Homo sapiens: one gene and its partner. The protein of the gene in region 2 interacts with the protein of the main gene of each other region in a pairwise test. Each region holds a gene or a part of one and is shown on either strand. Other genes may lie near its edges.

Region 1 (3,816 bases), on a different chromosome or scaffold from region 2:
AGTGGCAGGATCTCTGCTCACTGGAACCTCCACCTCCCGGGTTCAAGAGTTTCTTCTGTTTCAGCCTCCTGAGTAGATGGGATTACAGGCATGTGCCACCATGCCCAGCTAATTTTTGTATTTTTAGCAGAGATGGGGTTTTACCATGTTGGCCAGGCTGGTCTCGAACTCCTGGCTTCAAGTGATCTACCCGCTGTGGCCTCCCAAAGTATCAGGATTACAGGCATGAGCCACAGCACCCTGCCAGGCTTGGGTGTTCAAGGAAGAGAAAGAAGGCAGTGTGGCTGGGACATAAGTGAATGAGAGGTGGTAGGGTAAGAAATGTGTAGAAAACTATGCAGGGGCCTGATCACATTGGATCTTGCACATCTTTTTCCAAACCTCAGGAGGAGTCATTCTGCTTTTGTTGTTACTGGTTCCTCACTTCCGCACTTTATTGTATGCTGACAACCTTCCATACCATGGGACTGAGACTGCCCTCAATAGTATCACCAATGTCTTTTTTTGTTTTTTTTTTTTGAGGCAGAGTTTCACTCTTGTCGTCCAGGTTGGAGTGCAATGGCGTGATCTTGGCTCACTGCAACCTCCGCCTCCTGGGTTCAAGCGATTTTCCTGCCTCAGTCTTCCGAGTAGCTGGGGTTACAGGAGCCTGCCACCACACCTGGCTAATTTCTTGTATTTTTAGTGGAAATGGAGTTTCACCATGTTGGCCAGGCTGGTCTTGAACTCCTGACCTCAGGTGAACCACCCGCCTTGGCTTCCCAAAGTGTTGGGATTACAGGCATGAGCCAACGCACCCAGCCACCAATATCTTAATGGCCACACAGTGCTCATTGATAGATGCCTTGGCCCTGGGCTATTGTTGCTATAGAATTGGTTTGATGAGTACATATTACATGAGATCTGGGCTCATTAGAGCTTATGGCTTGAGCAGGGACTCCTTGGCCTAGGTTTATGCTGCTCCTGGCCTTGTTAATGACTGCTATTAACACTCTACCCCCTTTTTATTTTTTTGAGATGGGGTCTTGTTCTGTCGCCCAGGCTGGGAGGCTGGAATGCAGTGATCTTGGCTCACTGCAGCCTCCGCTTCTCAGGCTTAAGTGATTTTTCCTGCTTCATCCTTCTGAGTAGCTGGGACTACAGGCACGCACCGCCGTGCCCGTTTGATTTTTGTTTTTGTTTTTTTAGTAGACACGGGGTTTCACCATGTTGCCCAGGCTGGTCTCAAACTCCTGACCTCAAGTGATCTGTCTGCCTCGGCCTCACAAAGGGCTGGGATTACAGGCATGAGCCATTGCGCCAGGCACCACTCTACCCTTTTGACTTTGAGCAAGTAAGGTCGTTGATTCCATACATTCATTAAGATTCCTGCGTGGCAGAAATCTAACCCCAACTGGTATAACCAAGACAAGGAATTGATTATCTCATAACCTTAAATCAGGTGTGGCTGCATCTAGGTGTTCAAATGATATTGTCAGGACCCAGGCTCTCCATCCCTTGGCCCAGCTTTCCTCTGTTTTGGCTTCACTCTGAGGCAGGCTCTCCCTTGTGATAGCAAGATGACCACCGGCAGTTTCAGGCTTACCTCCGGCTTCAGGCTTACCTCCAGCTTCAGGCTTACCTTACCAACCCTAGTGGAAAGAGAGTTTCATTTTTGACAGCTATGCAAAAGGTCTGGACCTGGGCCCTCACTGGCTTAGTATGGGTTAGGCCCATCCTTAAGCCAATCATTGGCTCAGCATGGGTTAGATCCGTGACTGTCACTGGCTGAGCATGGGGGTTAGGCTCACCCTATCATTGGCTCTGCGTGAATTAGGCCCACCTCTGTCACTGGCTCATCGTGGGTTAGGCCCACCCATGAGCTGATCACTAAGGTCGTGAATAGGCATATGCCTCTTCCCAGGTGTGGAGGATGATGTCAGATCCCTCTGAACTCATGAAATGAGTAGGGTATTCTCCCAAGGGAATATTGTGCTGTCACAGAAGATGGAAAAATGAATGCATGTCTGGAAAAAACAAGCAAAACTACAAATCATTAGCTTTATATGACATTTATTTATTTTTTGTTTATATGTTTTTGAAATGGAGTCTTGCTCTGTTGCCCAGGCTGGAGTGCAGTGGTGTGATCGTGGTTCACTGCAACCTCTGGCTCCCGGGTTCAAGCGATTCTCATGCCTTAGCCTCCCGAGTAGTTGGGATCATAGGTGCCTGCCACCACACCCAGCTAATTTTTGTGCTTTTAGTGTAGACAGGATTTTACCATGTTGGCCAAGCTTGTCTTGAACTCTTGACCTCAAGTCATCTGCCTGCCTCAGCTTCCCAAAGTGTTGAGATTACAGGCATGAGCCACCACGTCTGGCCAGCTTTGTATGACATTTCGCCTTTCTGCCTTGATCAAACTTTCAGAGAATCTGCTTTCCAGAGGGATGAGTGGGTCGGGAAATAGCATGTTTTCTCTGAATGAGGGAAAGGATTGAAAAAGTAGGAGGGAGAAAGGATGTGAATATGAGTCCCAACAAATGCAGAGTTATCGGTAAGTTTTGTGCTTGAATCTAGGTACAATTGTGCATTTCCTGGTTCTGCATGAATTAGGCCCACCTCTGTCATTGGCTCAACATGGGTGAGGCTCACTAACTTCCACCAGAAGTTAGTGGTGGTGTCTGTGTTGACACTTACATGTTTAGCCTAATGATTTCATGTTTTAACCAAAACTATATAGCTTGTTGGTTATATCTTAGAAAGTGATGGTTTTTGCTCATTCTTTTGTCCCCAGGGATACACACCAGCCTCTAAGTTCTCTTGAGGGAAGGAAGGGACCTTGCACACAATCTTTTTTTTTTTTTTTTTTTTTTTTTTTTTGAGAGGAAGTCTCACTCTGTCACCCAGGCTGGAGTGCAGTGGTGCGATCTCGGCTCACTACAACCTCTGCCTTCTGGGTTCAAGTGATTCTCCCGCCTCAGCCTCCCGAGTAGTGGGGATTACAGGCGCACACCACCATGCCCGGCTAATTTTTATATTTTTAGTAGAGATGGGGTTTCAGTGTGTTGGCCAGGCTGGTTTCAGACTCCTGAGCTCAGGTGATTCACCTGCCCTGGCCTCCCAAAGTACTGGGATTACAGGTGTGAGCCACTGCGCCCGGCCTTGGACACAATCTTTTTTTTTTTTTTTTTTGAGACGGAGTCTCGCTCTGTCACTCAGGCTGGAGTGCAGTGGCACGATCTCAGCTCATTGCAACCTCCACCTCCTGGGTTCAAGCAATTCTCCTGCCTTAGCCGCCTGAGTAGCTGGGACTACAGGTACCTGCCACTGCGCCCGCCTAATTTTTGTATTTTTAGTAGAGATGGGGTTTCACCATATTGGCCAGGCTGGTCTCAAACTCCTGACCTTGTGATCTGCCCGCCTCGGCCTCCCAAAGTGCTGGGATTACAGATGCGAGCCACTGAGTCTGGCCTGGACACAATCTTACTTGGATTCCTCATGCCCTTTTGACAAGCTCAGAGCCTCAAATAAATTCAGAAAATAGGTGATTACATCAAACAGCCTCTATCAACAGGGAGTATACAAACCGTTAGCCCAACTGTTAATAGAAGTCTGCTTTCTTGCTGGGTGTGGTGGCTCACACCTAGAATCCTAGTGCTTTGGGAGTACAAGGCAGGAGGATCGCTTGAGCCCAGGAATTTGAGACCAGCCTAGGCAACATAGTAAGACCCCATCTCTTAAAAAAAAAATTAGCTTGGCGTAGTGGCCTATACCTGTAGTCCCAGCTAGTCAGGAGGCTGAGGCAGGAGGATCAGTGCCGCCTAGGAGTTCAAAGAT
Region 2 (3,816 bases):
CCAGCTGGTTCCCAAGCTCGGTAACTGTCTTTTCACAGCTGGCTAGTTTCTTCTCTGCTGTCCCTGTCCGACCTTCCAGGTGTAGGAGTCGCCGGCTGTGGATCTCCACCTTCCTCTCTATAGCCTGCACGGCGGCCACCACTGTCCACAGAGAGATAGCTGCTGTCTGCAGGTGTGCCTCATTTGCTGCTGGGGGTGTAGGAAGAGGAAGGGGCTGCAGGGATGTAAGGCACTCGGAGTCCCATTCAGATGTCTGCATGCAGTGGAAAGATGGAACAAGACATTGAGTGTTAGAAGGAACCCTAACTCCAAACTAAAATCAGATAAGGACTGCTTAACTGTCCAGCAGAGATTAATTTGAATATAGTTCTAGTACTGCCTGCGTATGCCTCATCTTTCTGGAGCTCACTGGCATCAACAGCCAAGAGACCTGATTTGGTGGTTCTGGGATAGATTGGGTAAGACAGTGAATTAATGAAATTGGCTCTTGAACTAGTCTGGTATATTTCCTCCGCTATAAGGCCCAGCTTAGGTTGCTGCAGCATCCTCTATCTCTGGAAAAGGCAAATGTGCACAAGGATCCTTTCCAGGCCTCACTGAACCTAGTGCCCTCTGATAAATCCATTATAGACTTATGCTCTAGACCTGTCAATCACCCTGTTTACAAACTACAACCACACCATTCAGTAATGGCTGAATAAGCTAAGAATCTTGAATCTGAAGAAAACATGAGAGCTGTTTTCAGATAATGAGGGTTACAAAACAGAAGGCAGAACAGCCTTGTTTCATCTTACACTATGTTACTCCAGAGGGCAGAACTAGAACCAACATAACGAAATTTTCAGACAGGCAAACTTTGGCCTACAATAAATACATTTTTTTCTTTTTAGAGACGGGGTCTTGGTGTCTCATTATGTTGCCTAGGCTGGCTCACTCAAGCAATCCTCCTGCCTCAACCTCCTAAGTAGCTGGGGCTACAGGTGTGTGCCATTGTGACCCACTAATAAATAATTGTTGAACTATTCAAAAAAAGAAATTCTTGCCGGTGCGGTGGCTCATGCCTGTAATCCCAGCACTTTGGGAGGCCGAGGTGGGCAGATCACCTGAGCTTGGGAGTGCGAGTCCAGCCTGGCCAACATGGTGAAATCCCGTCTCTACTAAAAGTACAAAAATTAGCCGGGTGATGGTGCACATCTGTAACACCAGCTACTCGGGAGGCTGAGACAGGAGAATCAGCTTGAACCTGAGAAGTGGAGGTTACAGTGAGCCAAGATTATGCCACTGCACTGCAGCATGGGCAACAGAGGGAGACTGTGTCTCAAAAAAAAAAAAAAAAAGAGGCTGGGCACGGTGGGTGGCTCACACCTGTAATCCCAGTACTTTGAGAGGCCGATCACCTGAGGTCGGGAGTTCGAGACCTGCCTGACCAACGTGGAGAAATCCCATCTCTACTAAAGATACAAAATTAGCCGGCCATCGTGGCAGATGCCTGTAATCTCAGCTACTCAGAGGCTGAGGCAGGACAATCGCTTGAACCCAGGAGACCGAGGTTTCAGTGAGCCGAGATCGCATCATTGCATTCCAGCCTGGGCAATAAGAGCAAAACTCCGTCTCAGAAAAAAAAAAAAAAAGAAATCTAGGCCAGGCGCGGTGGCTCACGCCTGCAATCCTAACACTTTGGGAGGCCGAGGGGGTGGATCACGAGGTCAGGAGATCGAGACCATCCTGGCTAACACGGTGAAACCCTGTCTCTACTAAAAATAGAAAAAATTAGCCAGGCGTGGTGGCGGGCGCCTGTAGTCTCAGCTACTTCGGAGGCTGAGGCAGCAGAATGGCGTGAACCCAGGAGGCGGAGCTTACAGCAACCCAACTTCGCGCCACTGCACTCCAGCCTGGGTGACAGAGTGAAACTCCGTCTCAAAAAAAAAAAAAAAGAAATCTTTAAGGGAAATCACATTATTAATTAATTAATTATTTATTTCTTGAGACAGAGTCTCGCTCTGTCGCCCAGGCTGGAGTACAGTGGTGCCATCTCAGCTTACTGCAACCTCCGCTGCCTGGGTTCAAGCGATTCTCCTGCCTCAGTCTCCCGAGTAGCTGGGACTACAGGAGCGTGCCACCATGCTCAGCTAATTTTTTGTATTTTTAGTAGAGATGGGGTTTCACCATGTTAGCCTGACCTCGTGATCCGCCCTCCTCGGCCTCCCAAAGTGTTGGCATTACGGGCGTGAGCCACCGTGCCCGGCCACATTATTTTATATATGATTTTAAAGTCTAAGATGGATAGTTTAAATGTTATCCACTTATTGCTTGAACCCAGGAGGCAGAGGTTACAGTGAGCCAAGATTCTGCTACTGTACTCCAGCCTACGCGACAGAACGAGATTCAGTCTCAAAAAAAAAAAAAGAAAAAAAAAGAAAGAAATTTTTGTTGAATGAATGAATAAATAAATAGGCTTGCATGCAAACCAGCCACCTCAGGATGTCTTCTATAGCTTAATTTTTTTTTTATTTTTTTATTTTTAGAGACAGGGTCACCGAGGCTGGAGTGCACTGACATGACCATAGCTCCTTGTAACCTATAACTCCTGGGTTATTGATCTTTCCAAGAAAATAAAAGGCTGCTCCAAAATAATTTACTTTGAAACAAAGAGTAGTATAAAAGGAAAAAATTCCCACAACAAATAAGTTGGACTAGGATGATGTATACAAAGCCTTCTAACTCTATGAACCTGATAAGCCACTCTCTGACGACAACCTCCCATCTTTCCAACTCACCCACTACTTTATTCTCATTTCACCTAGTCCTTTGACCATTCCATTTGCTCCTGGTATCTGCCCGTTCCTGGCTTTTTTTCTCTAATTGATCACATCAGTCACTTCCAACTCCCCTTCTCTCATGTCTTTCTGCCTCACCTGCTCAGCTAACCTCCGGCCTTGAATCAGTCCAATCATTCTTTCTCCATTCCTGTAAGCAGATTAGTAAGCGTGCCTAGAGGAAATCACCAGGTAAACTGCTGTCACCACATACCAATGGTTTCTAAGCTTAGTGGGGATCTCAACACTGACTTGTGCCCTCCATGCCGCTTGTCCCATTCCATAAAGTGGCTACTACAAAGCCTCAGCACAGTCCTTCAGCTTTTAGTACAGTTTGTCCTCAAACTAACATGAATAAGAATCAGCTGGAGGGGCCAGGCACAGTGGCTCATGCCTGTAATCCCAGCACTTTGCAAGGCTGAGACAGGTGGATCACCTGAGGTCAGGAGTTTGAGACCAGCCTGACCAGCATGGTGAAACCCTATCTCTACTAAAAAATACAAAAATTAGCTGGGTGTGGTGGCAAGCCATGTAATCCCAGCTACTCGGGAGACTGAGGCTAGAGAATCACTTGAACCCAGGAGGCGGAAGTTGCAGTGAGCTGAAATCGTGCCACTGCACTCCAGCATGGTGACAGAGCAAGACTCTGTCTAGGGCAGGAGGGGAGGCGGGGGGGCGCGGGAGGCGGGGAAGAATCACCTGGAGATCTTGTCAAAGTACAGATTTTTATTCAGTAGGTCTGTAAGGAAAACTGAGATTCTGTTGGGTTTTGTTTTTGTTTTTTTGGGATGAGGTCTCACTGTCACCCAGGCTGGAGTGCAGTGGTGTAATCTCAGCTTACCGCAACCTCCATCTCATGGGCTCAAGCGATTCTCCCATCTCAGCCTCCCGAGTAGCCGGGACCACAGGCACACACCACCATGCCCTGCTAATTTTTGTATTTTTGGTAGAGACAGGGTTTCACCATATTGCCTAGGCTGGTCTCAAACTACTCAGCTCA

Evidence for each region.
Region 1: the proteins of ZNF398 (region 2) and NDE1 interact in a two-hybrid assay, tested with the Homo sapiens proteins (one large-scale study listed by BioGRID).

The regions. Positions count from the first base shown.
Region 1 is NC_000016.10:15,656,596-15,660,411, forward strand, and holds part of NDE1 (nuclear distribution protein nudE homolog 1), read left to right. Parts: intron 1-3,816. UniProt on the Homo sapiens protein: Required for centrosome duplication and formation and function of the mitotic spindle. Essential for the development of the cerebral cortex.
Region 2 is NC_000007.14:149,150,382-149,154,197, reverse strand, and holds part of ZNF398 (zinc finger protein 398), read right to left. Parts: intron 3,224-3,816; exon of another isoform or gene 2,955-3,223; coding exon of another isoform or gene 2,916-2,954; intron 254-2,915; coding exon 1-253. UniProt on the Homo sapiens protein: Functions as a transcriptional activator.